Linked DNA regions of Homo sapiens: region 1 is linked to region 2. Evidence: fine-mapped expression QTL. A gene starts in region 2. The other region holds a variant in brackets. All regions are shown on one strand. Distances are from middle to middle.

Region 1 (2,915 bases), 28 kb after region 2:
GGAGAAAACCACAAGAAAATTAGAGTTTCAGTCTTGATATGAAAAATTGGAGTTCTAGAAAGAAAAACAAATGGTTGAGAAAATATTATGAAAGAAATAATGCAATACAATTTACTGGAAGTGGAGGATACAAACTTCCTGTTTGAAAGAGCTGTGAGTGAATACACAATAAAGTCAATGAAAAAGAGTTGTGCTAAGGTATATCATCCTAAAATTTCAGAACACTGGGAATTTAGAGAAGAACTTAAAAAGCAAACAGATTACAGACAGAGAATCAAGAATCAGAACACCCTTCTCAACAGCAATAACTAGGAGACAGTAGAACAATACCTTTAATATTTTAGGAAAAATGGTTTCCAACCAAGAATTCCCTTTACAGCCCAACTTTCAGTCACATGGTAGAATAGAGACATTTATTTTTAGGATGCAGAATGTAGAAAACACTTCCCTTCTGATGCACACTGTTTTAGAAAGGATGTGGTCTTCCAAAATAGGGGAATAAACAGAGAAAGAATCAGATATGGGATCCAGGAAATAGGGAACCAGTCAGATGAGGGCCTAACCAAATTCCTTGATGATTACTGTGTATTTTGCCTAGAAAGTGTAAGGGTGGAAAGGGTATGATCCTTTCTTCCCCATCATGGAGGGTCACAGTCAGCACTCCTGTAACAAAAGAATAAGTTAACTAAGGAAAGCATAACAAATTTATTATGTGCACACAAGTGCATGGGAGTCATACAAAATATGAACACTCAAAAGCTGGATGTGATGGCATATGCCTGTAGTCCCAGCCATTTGGGGAGGCTGAGGCAGAAGATTTGCTTGAGCCCAGGAGTTTGAGTTCAGCCTGGGCAACATAGAGAGACCCTGTCTCTAAAAACAACAACAACAAGAAAAGAAAACCCAAAGAGCCAGACGGTTGACCCTTAATACCCTCTTCGTTGGGGAGAGGGAACTGGGAGATATAGGGGTAACTGATTTTTAGGGGAAATGAATGGACTCGAGAGACAGAAATTAACTTGTAAATGATTCTCTTTAGAATTTGAATGAGCCGAGAAGCAGATAATACCTAGTTGAAATGCCTGTCCACTGTGTGGTTGCATTCTTTAGTCTTCTCTGCTATAGATAATTTCAGGGAATATGGAAGGCAATTGTGTTCCTCTTTGGGTATCCAGTTTCTGGGCAGATAATAGAGCTTCAGCGGAGAGCCTCATCTTGTGCTTTGGGAGAGATAACGGATTGAGAGGAGGAGGGGAGGAGGTCAGAGAGACCTTGCTGCTGCTTTTTTAGTTTAGCATGTCAAAGTGTTATATTTCTGGGTATTGGTTTCTGAACTGCAACCAAAGTAACCAGTCCTATTGGAAGAAGACAGAGGGTTCCATGAAAGATTTCTTCAACAAAAAATGAAATGAATAAAATACATCATGTATTTAAATGCATTGAGAAGAGATTTTTTTAGGCCTGTCAGGTAGCATGGGAATGATTTAGTCATAGGAATATAGAAAACTAAACAAAAGAAAAATGATGCAACCCTCAGTTCTCAGTAAACAAAAGATTGTGCAAGATAGGAAATTAAGCATAGT[A/G]TACTACGTGGCTCAACTTTTTGTTCTTCTTGTTATAGAGATGGGGTCTTGCCCTGTTGCTCAGGCTGGAATGCAGTGGCACAGTCATAACTCACTGCGGCCTTGAACTCCTAGGCTCAAGTGATCCTCCTGCATGGTTCAGCTTTGAACAGAGGTTACATTTCATAATATTGTGAACTCCAAGTTTTGGAAGGCTGGGGAAGGAAACATGTGGGAGGGCAGGTATAAGGATTAAGTCTTCATTTTCCACATAAAGTATATAAAACTGAAATAATAAGACATTCGTAGGATAAACATAGTGTTTAGAAATATGTTGGCAAATTACCAGATCAAAAAGCTAAGTTTCAGTGTGGTTGCCCATGGTGAGTGAGAGTTGGAGTGAGAGAGGGGGCTGGATGAGGCAGAAGAGGCCATTTTGTTTTTTTGTTTGTTTGTTTGTTTGAAAGATGGGGTCTCCTTATGCTGCCCAGTCTGATCTTGAACTACTGGGCTCAAACAATCCTCCTGCCTCAGCCTCCTGAGTAGCTGGGACTACAGATGTGCACCACTACACCCAGCTTGAGACCTCACTTTGATATGTCGTTTTAATATGTGTCTATGCATTAATATAAAAATTAAGTGCATAAATAAAATGTAGGCTGCGTACAGTGGTTCACATCTGTAATCCCTGCATTTTGGAAGGCCCAGGAGGGAGGATCACTTGAGGCCAGGAGTTAGAGACCAGCAGCCTGAGTAACATAGTGAGACCCCATCTCTAAATTAAAAACAATAATAATAAATAACATTTAAAAGGAATTAATTAACTTATGCAAATTTTTCACATAGATGCAGCCACTTTTGACTGGGTTGAAAAGTACTTGGTTAGAGCAGGGTTTCAAAGTAACAGAAAAATTGATGAACACCAAATAGTTTGACACTTCATCTGGGTTGTTTATTCTAAGACTGCCCTTGGAATGGCATTAATTATTCATGCAAACGACTTACCCATCTGACCTTCCTGCATATGAATACTTTTTTTTTGTTTTTAAGGGCTGTGGTTCTGGCCTTGAATTCTTTTTTTTAATCACTATTTTTTAGAGACAGGATCTCGTTATGTTGCACAGGCTGAACATGAACTCCTGGGCTCAAACTGTCCTCCCGACTTGGCCTCCTACGTAGCTGGGACTACAGGCGGCACTGCCACCGCACAGCTGGCTCTTGAACTCTTTCAAGAGTTGAAGACTCTTCTGAGGCCAGACTTCCAGGAAATGGCAGTAGTGCATGAGATGTAGGAATCCTTGGAAGTATAACTTTCAGGGTCTATAGACTTCTGGGCTACTGCAGCTTCTAGCA
Region 2 (2,915 bases):
CTCCCGACAGCCTGGGGTACACCGTGCACCCTCCAGACAGTCAGGGGCACACGGGGCCCCTCCCAGCGAGGGAGGGGACGGGGAGTCACAGGTTCGGCGTAGAAGGCGGCAGCGCAGGTGGGAGCGTGGTGAGGCGCCACTCCTCCAGCTCTCCCCACCGGCGGGAAGACCTCCTCGCCGCCCGCATCCGTGCCGACCGCAACATTTACCATCGGCAGCTATTTCAGAGGTCGGTCTTTCGCCTCCTACAGAGAGCCAGCCTCCTCCTTGTCCCCGCCCTCAAATATCCTTCAGTGAGGACACCGGTGACCTTTGGGGGTGGAGAGGGAGGCGCCTACAAGCCCCTTCCCCTCTCTTCGGCCGGACACAAAGCGGGCTTTTCCACCTAGAGTCCCAGCGCTCTCACCTGCGCACCAGCCGTCGCGCCGCCCCAGGCCGCCACCGCCAGAGGCCCCAGAAACAGATCTCAAGCAGCCGCTGCTGCCGCGGATCCCGACAACCTTCGCGTCGCGCGAGGGCACGGAGCACGCGCAGCTCTGCGGTCGACGCCGGGCCGCCCCCACTCCGCTTCTCCGGGTTTTCCGTGAAGCTCCAGCCAACAGCGGCCGTCACCGGAAAAAACGGGGAGCGAAGTTTATTCAGCGTATATTCCAGCAAATTGTTGAAACTGAAATTTTAAAAGAACGCATAAAATTTAAATAACATATCAAAATGGCACAGCTTCTGCCTTTTGGTGAGCGCTTGACAATGATTTATTGAATGAAAGAAAGAAATAGTCCACTGCGCTCTGCTCTCTGTCCTGACATGACCAATTACAAAGCGCTTGGATTTGTCGCTCAGCGCCAGTATCCCGCCTCTCTGTGCGGTTGTCTGGAAAATCAGGATTTTTACTCTCCCGTAACTCCCGGGATCGGGTTTGGAAAACGGACATGCGCCGTGAGAGCTAGTTGCCTTCTACTAAAGCATCCGCCCTCAGTCCTTCCTGAGGGCTTACAGGGAAGTGCGGAGTTTCGCAGCTCGTACTCTTCACAGATTAGATAATTCACCCGGCATTTCCCCATCCTGCTTCTGGGTTCCAGGACAAAACTTTTATTCTCTTTTAACATTAAAAAACATATAGGAAGTTATGTTCAAACATGGCTATTTTTATTAAAATTTATCCGGCACTGTGAAAGCTACCTTTCCTTTCTCACAATCTTTCGCACCGAATATATGTTCCATTCTTGAGCTAGTCATTTTCCAATGTTAAGAAAACACACCACAGAAAAGCGTTTTTTTTTCTCTCGGTCAGTTCAACTGCCTAGCACCGTGAGTTACCATGATACGTTATTTGCTAATGAGAGTCATTGGGGTCCCAGCCTTTAAAAATAGCCTGCGTCCGGCGCCATTTTTGTTTTGGGCCCACTTTGAAAGCCGCGATATTCTGAACAGAGGCCATTTTTCTTTTGGGCAGATTCCACGGGCCATCGAAGTGTTTCGCTGCCATCTTAAATCCTGGCTGTGGCCTCAATCCTGCAGCGAAGCTGCCCAGATCATTTTGTGTTTGGGCGGCGGCTGAGTTCCCAAACGCGCGCGGAGACCCTGGGAAGGAGGAAGTAAGCGCGAAAGTGCTTCCCTTAAGCTTCTGAAGGTTGGCTGCAGTTCCGGCTACCTGTGTAGTCCGAGTTTCCACAGCCAGGTACTACTCCGCCAGTGACCCTGGACAGTAACAAAACATATAAAGCCCGAGCCCAAACCCCGCCACCATCATAGGTAAGCACATGGACCTCTGACAACCTCAGATGTTCCTTCAAGTGAACTGAACTGTTTGCCCATCTCCTCCCTCCTGGTTTTTGGCTTTGATTTTTTGAGACTTTTCCGAATCCTTCTCCCTGTACTTCCACCTTTCTTCATTGTTTTCAAAAAGCCAAAAAGTTGCTAAACATCAGGATGCCATGAGCATGGGCATTACGGTGGAGATATTATTCAGGAAAGTTAACTGTCTTTGCACAAAGGGAATGCAGTAGATGGGCCAGGTATTTGTATCAAATCATGGCTACCTGCATCCAGCAGTACAAATACCTCCCCCTTCCCAGACATTTTTGGAGATGTGAGGTAAATACAGATTGCGTTTGTATATACTTCCCATTCATTCATTTATTCATTGCATTTCTTGAGTACCTAATTTGTGCTAGGCCATAAGGATTCAGGAGTTAGCTAAAAAAAATCCATTAACTCATGGAGCCTACATTTTATCACCTTGACATCTACTAGGTTGAGACAAATAACAGTATTTTATGGTTCTTAGCACTGCTAGACTGTATAAACAAGTATTTGCTTTCTCCTTCCCCTGAACTATTTTTTTTTATTTTTAGTTTTTAATTTTTTTGGCCGGGTGTAGGAATTAATGGTATTGACACTTACTTCTTGGATCCTAGACATAACGATATTTGTAAGCCAGTTGGCTAGCGTTAAAACTAATATTCCAGTTACTTAGGGCCTTGTTGCTCCAAGTTCATTTCACCTACCACCAGCATCAGCATCCCTGGGAGCTTGTTAGAATTACACTTCATGACTCTCACCCCAGAGCTGCTGAATCAGAATCTTCCTCAAGAAGTGTACCTTAAAGTTCAAGGAACATTGATTCAGGGCATGGGCTAAAGATACAGCCCTTTCTTTCTTTCTTTTTTTTTTTAGATGGAGTCTCGCTCTGTTGCCCAGGTTGGAGTGCAGTGGCGCGATCTTGGCTCACTGCCATCTCCGCCCCCCGGGTTCAAGCAATTCTCCTGCCTCAGCGTTCCCAGTAGCTGGGATTACAGGCGCGCGCCACCACCCCCGGCTAATTTTTGTATTTTTAGTAGAGACAGGGTTCGCCATGTTGGCCGGGTTGTTCTCGAACTCCTGACCTCAGGTGATCCACCCGCCTTGGCCTCCAA

Evidence for each region. PIP is the estimated chance that this variant, and not a neighbour inherited with it, causes the effect.
Region 1: its variant is fine-mapped to the expression of SLX4IP in whole blood (TOPMed, PIP 0.99).

Annotation. Positions count from the first base shown.
Region 1 is chr20:10,462,180-10,465,094 of GRCh38, forward strand. All of the region lies in intron 2 of SLX4IP (SLX4 interacting protein), which reads left to right. Among named protein-coding and RNA genes, the nearest start is that of SLX4IP, 28 kb to the left of the region's middle. The variant A/G (reference allele first, on the strand shown) is at 1,584.
Region 2 is chr20:10,433,702-10,436,616 of GRCh38, forward strand. SLX4IP (SLX4 interacting protein) reads left to right here and starts at 1,604. Exons shown (of 8, transcript NM_001009608.3): 1 at 1,604-1,752. It overlaps MKKS (MKKS centrosomal shuttling protein), which reads right to left and starts at 521. Exons shown (of 6, transcript NM_170784.3): 1 at 407-521. It overlaps LOC128706665, which reads right to left and starts at 521. Exons shown (of 3, transcript NM_001394148.2): 1 at 407-521. LOC128706666 reads right to left here and starts at 521. Exons shown (of 3, transcript NM_001394149.2): 1 at 407-521. RefSeq lists enhancers at 368-427, 1,318-1,547, 1,708-1,757.